2 separate regions of the Homo sapiens genome follow, and region 1 is linked to region 2. The links come from fine-mapping of genetic effects on gene expression. A gene starts in region 2. The other region holds a variant in brackets. All regions are shown on one strand. Distances are from middle to middle. Region 1 holds the start of MRPS21 (mitochondrial ribosomal protein S21). Region 2 holds the start of RPRD2 (regulation of nuclear pre-mRNA domain containing 2).

Region 1 (5,372 bases), 71 kb before region 2:
TATCACTAAGTACCATAGTTTTTTGTTTTGTTTTGTTTTTTCCTGGATAACTAGGCTTAAAATTTGGTGCCATCTGGTCACCAGATCCTTTTTATTCTTTATTTGGAATATCTCTTAAAATCCATTTCTTCCTATCCATTCCATTGCCACCAGTCTGGTCTAGACTTCACTGTACCAGTAGTCTCTCTTCTAATCCCTTTTCGCTGATAACCAAGTTAATTTTCCTAGAACAGTGCTTTGCATATCATATCCTATTCAAATTCTTCAATGGCTCTCGAATGCTTTGAGAAGAAAGTCCAAAATCTTTAGTCACAGTCTCTATTTTTCCCTGTGCTCCCCTGCATGATCTCTCTGTTGCAGGTTTTTGTTTTGTTTTGTTTTGACTCCTGAACACTACACCTTTTTGCCCCTAAGCTCTTGTTCATGCTGTTCACCTTGCCAAACCTTTCCTGCTTCTGTTATCTAAACCCTGCCCTCTTTCAACGACTAACTCAAGTCCATCCTATCATTCTTTCTGTTAAACATGATCTATACACTCAGTGTTTGGCCGTTTACTCCATTAAATGGAATCATGTACATAAAATACCTAGTGCAGGGTTTGGGGCCTGGTGGGGTGGCTCACACTTGTAATCCTAGCACTTTGGGAGACCAGCCTGGACAACATAGTGAAACTATTAAAAATACAAAAAATTAGTCTCTACTAAAAATACAAAAAATTAGCTAGGCGTAGTGGCATGTCCCTGTAATCCCAGCTACTCGGGAGGCTGAGGTGGAAGGATCACCTGAGCTCAGGAGGTCCAGGCTACAGTGAGCTATGATGGTGCCACTGCATTCTAGCCTGGGCAACAAGAGTGAGACTCTGTTTCAGAAAAACAAAAACAAAAATAAAAAACACCCACCTAGTACAGGGTTTAGTATATAGTAGGCTCTCAAAAATGTTACTCTCCAGCTGATCCAATGGTAGTGGTTAACAGAACTTATTAACATCAGTTCCTGTCTCCCTTCCTTTCTTTCAAAGTATCTTCATATTTTTTTTCTCTTTTTTTTTTTTTTTTTTTTGGAGACAGAGTCTCGCTCTGTCACCCAGGCTGGAGTGCAGTGGCACCATCTCAGCTCACTGCAACCTCCACCTCCAGGGTTCAAGTGATTCTCTTGCCTCAGCCTCCCAAGTAGCTGAGACTACAGGCGAGCGCCGCCACGCCCAGCTGATCTTTTGTATTTTTAGTAGAGACGGGGTTTCACTGTGTTAGCCAGGATGGTCTCGATCTCCTGACCTCGTGATCCACCCGCCTCAGCCTCCCAAAGTGCTGGGATTACAGGCGTGAGCCACCGTGCCCGGCATATCTTCATATTTTATTCTATTTGATTCCCATGACAAATTTCGTGAGACTGAACAGGGCAAAATTAGTCCCATTTTAGAGATGAGGAAATAGAGTGAGTCTGGCAAGGGCCAGATAGTAAATATTTTAGGCTTTGTAGGCTTTATGTCTCTATTGCAACTACCCAATTCGGCCATCGTAGCCCAAAGCAGCCATACATAACACACAGTCAAATAAGCATGACTGTAGGTCAACAGCCTTATTTACAAAAACAGGTGGAGCAGGATTTGACCTGTAAACTGTAGTCTCCAGACCCCTGGTTTTAAATGACTTCTTCAAGGTCATAGGCCTGATGAGTATTAGAATTGGGATAGAATCCAGATCTCCCAACTTTGAAGCCAGTGCCTTTCACCACATTATGCTGTGGCATATTTTATTTATTATTTGTTTGTTTATTTATTTTTTGAAATGGAGTTTCACTCTTGTTGCCCAGGCTGGAGTGCAATGGTGCGATCTCGGCTCACTGCCACCTCCGCCTCCCAGGTTCATGTGATTCTCCTGCCTCAGCCTCCCAAGCAGCTGGGATTACAGGCATGTGGCACCACGCCTGGCTAATTTTGTATTTTTAGTAGAGACAGGGTTTCACCATGTTGGCCAGGCTGGTCTCAAACTCCTGACCTCAGGTGATCTACCCGCCTCAGCCTCCCAAAGTGCTGGGATTACAGGCGTGCGCCACCGCGCCTGGCCCTATTTATTTATTTATTCATTTTTAATTTTTTGAGACAGGGTCTCACTCTATTGCCCAGGCCAGGGTGCAGTGGTGTGATCAAAGCTCGCTGCAGCCTTGACCTTCCAGGCTCAGGTGATCCTCCCCCTCAGCCTCCCAAGTAGCTAGGACAACAGGCCATGCCACTACACCCGGCTAATTTCTATATTTTTTGTAAAGACGGAGTTTTGCTTTGTTGCCCAGGCTGGTCTCGAACTTCTGGGCTCAAGTGATCCGCCTGCCTTGGCCTCCCAAAGTGCTGGGATTACAGGTGTGAGCCACCGCGTCCAGCCCATATAATTTATTTTGCATTTATTATATACTACTTTGTTTTAGTATCTTTTATGTGGTCCTAGTGGTCCAGGAGGCACTAGAGTGGTATCAACAGTATCTGACACAGAGTAGTCATTCAGTGAAAGTTTGTTGACAAGCATAATAATGTCCCAATCTAGTTCTATTTCGTTACTTTGGACCTGGCTTACTCTGAGGTGGGCTTAAGTGTTAGTGTAAGTTATTAGCATCAACTGATGATGCACACGTCTGTGTCTGTGTCTGTGTGTGTGTGTGTGTGCGTGAGCGTGCGCGCGCACTCTCTCTCTAAGGGAGGTACGTTTTCCTACAGCCATTAGATGTTAACTTACGTGAATAACCATAAATGGATATGTACAGGTAGCATACAAATAGGAGGACGGGTGTCTCCACAGCGAAGAAGAAATTTAAAAGGAGGTTTTTCAGTAGGTCTCA[T/C]TAGCACGAAAAGGCATAGAAGCTGACATAATTTTTTATTCTAAACCCTGCAGGTGTTTCCCATATATCTTTATTGATTTCACTTTATGTAGTTAAATTAGTGGGAAGATGATATAGGAAACTCACAGTATGTTTATTTCTTTTCCTTAGCACTTAGGCAGATGACGTGTATGAATCAATCTATTTTTCGTCCGGAGAGCAGATCTCAAAGAGTCTGTCCTTTCCAAAGAGAAAACAGGAAGCATCCTCAGGAAGCGCCTACTTCTCTTGTTTTCCATCGAGAAAGAGAAATGGCTCAAATATTTATCAAGGATTTCACAGGATTAAGGGGTATGAAATTGGGCTGACCTTCTCAGAGGCCGAAGGACTTCGACTCCATGAGAGGGCGAGAAACGTGTTTCGGGGGAATTTAAGTCAATGAGTATTTTGCTTTGTCAGGTGTAGAGTCCAGGCCCGGGGAAGAGAGGCAGTCAACAGAGGCCAGAAAGGACGTTGCTATGGTTTCCACGCACGTTGTCTCCCTCGGCCTGTTTCTTTGCGCGGCGCTGGCGATTCCGTAATTTCCGCTTCCGGTAGTGAGAACCCTTCCGGTGGGCTAGGTACTGAGCGCGCGAGGTGAGGAGTTGTGCAGGGTTTGGGGAAAGGAAGGCTGGCTTGGCGAGAGGGCAGGTTTGCGGGCTTTCGCCCCCTTTTCCAAAGACCAACAAAGAGTCCTTCCCCAACTCCCAACTCAACCCCTTTTGGAACTATGTGTGGTGGTTGGGACCCTGTGGCGCATCCTTGTCGCTCGTGTCCTTCTCATGCCCGGCGACGCGTCTTTGTGGTAACGCCCTGCTGCCATCTCTTTTCTTCTCTATGCGAGGATTTGGACTGGCAGTGAGAATAAGAGACAACGATTCACGTCTACTTTCTAGGATGACTTCCATGTGCTCCATCTCGCGCGTCCCTGAGCATGTTGAATTTCCAAATCCTAAATAAGCCGCGCGGTGTAGTTTGTATTATGTTGCGTTTCTCTTTCTGCTTTCCTCGCCCTTTCTCCATCATCCTTTAGGCTCTACAGAGTGAAGGTTTAAATCCAAGGTCATGGCAAAACATCTGAAGTTCATCGCCAGGACTGTGATGGTACAGGAAGGGAACGTGGAAAGCGCATACAGGACCCTAAACAGGTAACTGTTAAGGGACCAGAATCATGCCTAGACTCTCTGGGAAGTGCGGTGGTTATTCTCTCCCTTCCCCTTTCGTTGATTGTTCTCAAAACAGTGCCAGCCCAGGTGTTCACAGTCTCTTAAAACGTCTCAGCCCCTCAGTTTATTATCTTAAAAATGAAGTTCTGGGCCGGGCGCGGTGGCTCACGCCTGTAATCCCAGCACTTTGGGAGGCCGAGGCGGGTGGATCACATGCGGTCAGGAGTTTCAGACCAGCCTGGCCAACATGGTGAAACCGTGTCTCTACTAAAAATACAAAAATTAGCCGGGCGTGGTGGCAAACGCCTGTAATCTCAGCTACTCGAGAGCTGAGGCAGGAGAATCGCTTGAACCCGGGAGGCAGAGGTTGTAGTGAGCCAAGATCGAGCCACTTGCACTCCAGCCTGGGCAAGAGTGAGACTCTATCTCAAAAAAAAAGAAAAAAAGTTCTTCCTCAAACCTAACTGTATGAATTGTATTCAACAAGTAATCACCCCCCGCACCTCCCCGCTTTTAATTTTAATTTTAATTTTTTTTTTTTTTTTTGAGGCAGAGTCTCGCTCTGTCACCCAGGCTGGAGTGCAGCGGCACGATCTCGGCTCACTGCAAGCTCCGCTTCCTGGGTTCACGCCATTCTCCTGCCTCAGCCTCCTGAGCAGCCAGTACTACAGGCTCCCGCCACCACGCCCGGTTAATTTTTGTATTTATAGTAGAGATGGGGTTTCACCGTGTTGGCCAGGATGGTCTTGATCTCCTGACCTCAAGTGATCTGCCTGCCTCTGCCTCCCAAAGTGCTAGGATTACAGGCGTAAGCCACAGCGCCCGGCCCCGCTTTTTAAAAATTGAGACAGGGTCTTGCTGTGTCACTCAACAATCCTCCTGCCTCAGTCTCCTGACTAGCTGGGTCTAGTGACGCACGCCACCACCGCAGTTAATTTTTGTATTTTCTGTACAGAGGGAGTCTCGCCATGTTGCCCAAGCGTAATGACTCCTTTTATGAGGAACCTGAATTCTTTAGAAGACTTAAAAAAGAGCCCAAATGGAAAATCAAGATGTGAAGTTGCTAGGAAGCGGGAACGTAGTATGATAAATAGAAAGCTGAGGGAGTGATTGGTGTGGGACAAAGCTAAAGGAAAAGGTGAATTCAGATTGGCATCCTAGAGAAGCAGGCAAAAGATGGGAAAGCTCACTGGGTGGGATGACTCACACCTGTAATCCTAGCACTTTGGGAAGCCTAGTGGGGAGGATTGCTTGTTGCCAAGAGTTCAAGACCAATCTGGTAAACATAGCAAGACCCCATTTCTAAAAATATTAAGAAGAAAGGGAAAAAAAGAAAGATGGGAAAGCTTACAAGTTTTC
Region 2 (5,372 bases):
CACATTGGTCAGGCTGGTCTTTAATTCTTGACCTTGTGATCCACCCCACTTGGCCTCCCAAAGTGCTGGGATTACAGGTGTGAGCCACCGCACCTGGCCCTGTATTTTTAGTAGAGATGGGGTTTCACCATGTTGGTCAGGCTGGCCAGTTTCTAACTCTTGACCTCGGGCGATCCACCGGCCTCGGCCTCCCAAAGTGCTGGGATTACAGGCATGAGCCACCGCGCCCGGCCTTAGGTTGATGATTTCTTACAAAAGTAAACATATTCTTACCATATGATGTAACAATTGTGCTCCTTCGTGTTTACCCAAGGAGTTGAAAATATATTCACCCCAAAAGCTGTACAGAGATGTTTGTAACAGCTTTATTCATACTTGCAAAAATGTGGAAGCAACCAAGATGTCCTTCAGGTGAATGGATAAATAAAACTGGCACATCTGGACAGTGAAATATTATTCAGCACTAAAATGAAATGAGCTATCAAGCCATGAAAAGACATGGAAGAAACTGAAATGCATTTTTTTTTTTTTTGAGGTGGAATCTCATTCTGTTGCCCAGGCTGGAGTGCAGTGGCCTGATCTTGGCTCACTGCAACCTCCGCCTCCCAGGTTCAAGTGATTCTCCTGCCTCACCCTCCGGAGTAGCTGGGACTACAGGCGTGCGCCACCATGCACGGCTAATTTTTGTATTTTTAGTAGAGACGGGGGTTTCACTATGTTGGCCAGGCTGGTCTCGAACTCCTGACCTCGTGATCCACCCACCTCGGCCTCCCAAAGTGCTGGGATTACAGGCATGAGCCACCGTGCCCCGCCTGAAATGCATATTATTAAGTGAAAAAAGCCAGTCTGAAAAGGCTACATACTGAATGATTTCACCTATATGACATTCGGGAAAAGGCAAAACTATGAAGACAGTAAAAAGATTAGTAGTCGCTAGGGGAATAAGGGGGAGGGAAGGATGAATAGGTGGAACACAGAGGTTTTTAGAGCAGTGATACTGCTCTGTATGATACTGTAATGGTGGATACATGCACATTTGTCCAAACTCAAGGTATAACACCAAGAGCGAACCCTAATGTAAACTATGGGCTTTGGGTGATAATGTGTCAGTGTAGGTTTGTCAGTTGTAACAGATGTATCGTTCTGGTGCGTGACATTGATAATGGGGGAGGGTATTCATGTGTGGGGGCAGGTGGTATATGGAATTCCTTGTGCTTTCCACACAATTGCCGTGAATCTAAAACTGCTCTAAAAATAGTCTATAAAAAAGTGGGTCTTTGGCTAGAGTTACAGAAAAAAAAAAAATGTGGGGTCAGGACCAGGCATGGCGGCTCAAGCTTATAATCCCAGCACTTCGGGAGGCTGAAAGCAGGAGGACTGCTTGAGGCTAGGAGTTTGAGACCAGCCTGGGCAACATAGGGAGACTCCCCCTCTCAAAAAAATGTTGTTGTTGTTGTTTTGTTTTTTTAGCTAGGTGTGGTGGTGCAGGCCTGTAGTCCCAGCTACTTGTGCTGCTGAGGCAGGAGGACCACTTGAGTCTGGGGGATTGAGGCTGCTGTGCGATATGATAGTGCCACTGCACTCTAGCCTTGGCAGGGACAGAGCGAGACTGTATTTTAGAGCCTTTGCACTTGCTGTTCCTAATGCCAGCATGTTCCGCTCCCCGTCTCGCATATCTGCTTGGTTGCTTTTTTCTCAATGTTCAGATCGAGTTATTTCTTTCGAGAAGACTTCCTGGTTCACCATACCACCATTCTTATACTGGCGCGTGCGTGCCGTGCACACGTACACACACGCGCGCACACACACACACCCCTTTCTCCCTTACCCTGCTTCACCTTTTTACAGAATTTAATACTGTCTGAAATGTACTTGTTGGTGGTGTCCTGCCACTAAATCCCGGAGGGAACGGATTTTTGTCTGTTTTGCTCCCCATGATCTAAAACAGTACTTGGCACAAGAGGTTCAACAACTCGTTGAATTAATGAATAGTGGACATGAACTTGACAAAACAGGTTCCCTGCCTCAAGAGGCATGGCCGCAGTGAGGAGACGTTAAAAGAATTAAAACTGTATATGTTTAGTGGGAACACAGGAGCCTTTAAATTAGCTCAGAGGATTTACATAGATACCTGCGATAAAATGGTTCGTATAAGGTTCATATAATAGTTACGTAAGACTCTTGAAAACTGTAATGTATTATGCAATTTTAAGATTGTATCATAGCTGGCGAAAATGAGGTCACATCTTGCCATTCTTTTTTCGCCTCGAAAAATTTTATGAGGAAAATTTCCTTTCACTTCCTCATTTATTTCCTTTTCCTGTAACCTAAATGGTCAAGCGGCTGTGAATGTTATCTTCTATGGGCAGCAATAAATACGGTTTGGTGTCGGAGTCTGCGTAGTGAATGGCTCACTGGATCTGGCGCATGCGCATCTTTTGTGGTGCCGCAAGATGGCTGCCAGCCATTTTGTCGCGCGTTGCTCCTCCGAGGAGTTGGGGGCGATGGCTGCAGCCCCCTGAAGACTAACAGTGGTCTCAGTGGTGGGAATTTTCTGTCTCTGTTGTGTGAGCTGAACACACCCAAGAGAGCGGCCAAAAGCAGCAAAGGGCGGGGCAGGGGAACCCCCCCACCCGGCTAACCTTAGTTATACCAGCTCCCTCACCCATCCCTCCCAGTTTTTCCTTCCATCCCGTTACACGCTTATCTTCTGCGCAGGCGCAAAAATAATCGTAGCGCCTCCTGGGCCCTGGGGGCTTCAGAGCTCCTGCGCGCGCTTGTGGTTCTCCACTCCTGATTGGTCAGGTTGCCCCGCCATCACGCCTCCCTCTGCTTTCAAGGTTGAGAAGGAAGCAGGGGTAGGGGGGTGGGGCCAAGTGGCGCGTGCGCGATACTGTTGCTGCCCCTTTGCTGCTATTGCGTTGCAAAAAAAATCCTGACTAGGTAGCCTTGGACCTTTTCTGTGCTAGCGAGTCTAAAGGAAAGAAAGATTTCTGCAACTGAAGGGGCAGTCGGGTAGTATTACATTTAAGATATTAACGCCCGACCTGGCTCACAGGAGTGTGGGAACAGGGGCGGGGAAGGGCCTTAGCACTGAGAGCCGAAAAGTATAAAACGATTAGTTTCGGCGTCAGGCGTTTTGAAAGGCTTTGCAGGTCCTGTTTTCTGCGTAATTTTTCCGTGATTACTGACTGGTTTAAACACGACCCCTTGAACAATATTGATAAAACCTCCGAGACCCGCAGCCCCTCCTTGCAGCGTGTAGGAGCTGCCAGCGTGCCCAGCAGCTGGTGTTCCCGTCCGTACCTCCAGAAGAGCCCAGCGCGTGCACCATCCCCACCCCCTAGCTTCCCTCCCCACCTACGGCTTTCACGCACTCGCAGTGATTGTTTTGCCCGCTCCCGCCGCCGCCGCCGCCGCCGCCGCCAGAGGAGCAGCAGCGCTTGTGCAAACCGGGAAGATGGCGGCCGGCGGCGGCGGAGGCAGCAGTAAGGCCTCCTCCTCGTCGGCCTCTTCGGCAGGGGCTCTGGAGTCCTCGTTGGATCGAAAATTCCAGTCGGTAACCAACACCATGGAGTCCATTCAAGGCTTGTCGTCTTGGTGTATAGAGAACAAAAAACACCACAGTACTATCGTCTATCATTGGATGAAGTGGCTCCGGAGATGTGAGTGTTGGGGGTGACTAGGGAAGGGAAGACTGGGGAAATGGAAGGAAGTGTGGCCTGAAACGCTTGGGGTTTTCCCACGGAGCCGCAGCATTTGGTTGGGGTTGTTCACATTAAAGGTTTGACCCCAGTGGTCCCAAACCCAGACTCCATTCCTAGCCAGGATTGTCCTGAATTGCAGGAGACTCATTTCTTGGGTTTTTTAGCCATTGAATTGTTGTGACCTTGGGCCGTTGGGCCCAGATCCATGGAGATTTACGTATATTGTTTTTAATATTTCAGAGCCTTGTAAGGTGTATTGATTTTTCCGAACCTTCGCGGAAATTGTAGCGTCTGTTTATTTCTTACAGGCCTTGACGTGTTAATGATTTCTGGCTTTCCTGATGGTAGGCGAGCTGTGGTTTTAAGCAGTAGTAAATCCAGTGATGTTTAATGAGGAGTGCCTTGTCTGGATGAATGTATCTAAAACTTGTGATGTGTAGTAAGGAGAGCCTTACCTGGATGAATGTTAAGAAGCAGCATGAGCTCTACATAGATCTGAGGCACCACCGGGTTTTCCCTGTACCTGTGTTTGCTGCAATAAAATACAGGTTTCTTGGATACTGACCAGAAACAACTGCGATACAGTAGTCAGTATCATCGTTAATACCTTCAAATATAAAGCGTGTCCAGTTCCTCTTTTTTTTTGAGACGGAGTTTTGCTCTTGTCGCCCAGGCTGGAGTGCAGTGGCGCGATCTCGGCTCACTGCAACCTCCACCTCCCGGGTTCAAGCGATTCTCCTGTCTCAGCCTCGCGAGTAGTCGGGATTACAGGCGCCCGCCACCATGTCCGGCTAATTATTTGTATTTTTAGTAGAGACGGGGTTTCATCATTGTGGCCTGGCTGGTCTCGAACTCCCGACCTCAGGTGATCCACCTGCCTCGGCCTCCCAAAGTGCAGGGATTACAGACGTGAGCCCCCCGTGCCCGGCCCCGTTACTTTTTAATTACCTGAAATACCTTTTTACACAATTGAGTTGATCTCATGGGTAATGTGCACAGGAAATGTGCTTTTTGAATATGTAGTACCTTTTTCTCCAGTTATGTTTTTTTTGTCTTTATCCTGGAGATTTTTCCATTTTGCTGCTTTACTGCAGAAACGAGCTCTGTTAAAGCATGGATTGTTTGCAGAACGTTTCAAATCTTATAGGAGGAAGTGTGGAGAAGTTACTGTTTCCTGCTGAGAAGAGAGGGTTAACTCATACTCCATATACATCTATTAGAATTTTTCTTTGCTTCCTGCCTGCGGCATTTCACCAGTGAGACCCATCATCCAGTTATTCTGCCTTATTCCACTTCTGCCATTGCTCCTGTAGTGTTTTGATTTGTTTACCTTTTAGAGAACAGATAGATAAAACTTGCAAAATTATAGGCCCCATGCTTCGAACTATTTGTGTTTAAAGTTTTGGGAGGGATGTTTTGTGGTTCTTTGAATAATAATGCAGAGAAATTAGTAGATACCGGACAGAATTACCTGTGTTTACCAATAACCGATCAAAGAGTTATTTTCTTGCCCAGAGGTAAAATTATAACGTGCAAAAACATCAAATATGATAACAGTCATCATTGAAGACTCACATGTTAAGTATCTGCTATGTGCCCAGTCATCTCATTGTACCTTAAAATCGTCTGAGAAGTAGATTTTTTAATCACTGATTTACAAACGAG

Evidence for each region. PIP is the estimated chance that this variant, and not a neighbour inherited with it, causes the effect.
Region 1: its variant is the best candidate, but not a certain one, in a credible set for the expression of RPRD2 in lung (TOPMed, PIP 0.61).

The regions. Positions count from the first base shown.
Region 1 is chr1:150,290,455-150,295,826 of GRCh38, forward strand. It overlaps MRPS21 (mitochondrial ribosomal protein S21), which reads left to right and starts at 3,407. Exons shown (of 3, transcript NM_031901.6): 1 at 3,407-3,444; 2 at 3,881-3,995. The coding sequence starts at 3,913. It overlaps LOC105371434 (a long non-coding RNA gene), which reads right to left and starts at 3,366. Exons shown (of 2, transcript XR_922129.4): 1 at 3,178-3,366; 2 at 2,846-3,043. RefSeq lists an enhancer at 3,695-3,754. The variant T/C (reference allele first, on the strand shown) is at 2,830.
Region 2 is chr1:150,361,255-150,366,626 of GRCh38, forward strand. It overlaps RPRD2 (regulation of nuclear pre-mRNA domain containing 2), which reads left to right and starts at 2,893. Exons shown (of 11, transcript NM_015203.5): 1 at 2,893-3,665. The coding sequence starts at 3,461. RefSeq lists enhancers at 1,188-2,130, 2,111-2,180, 2,341-2,650, 3,401-3,680, 4,164-4,453.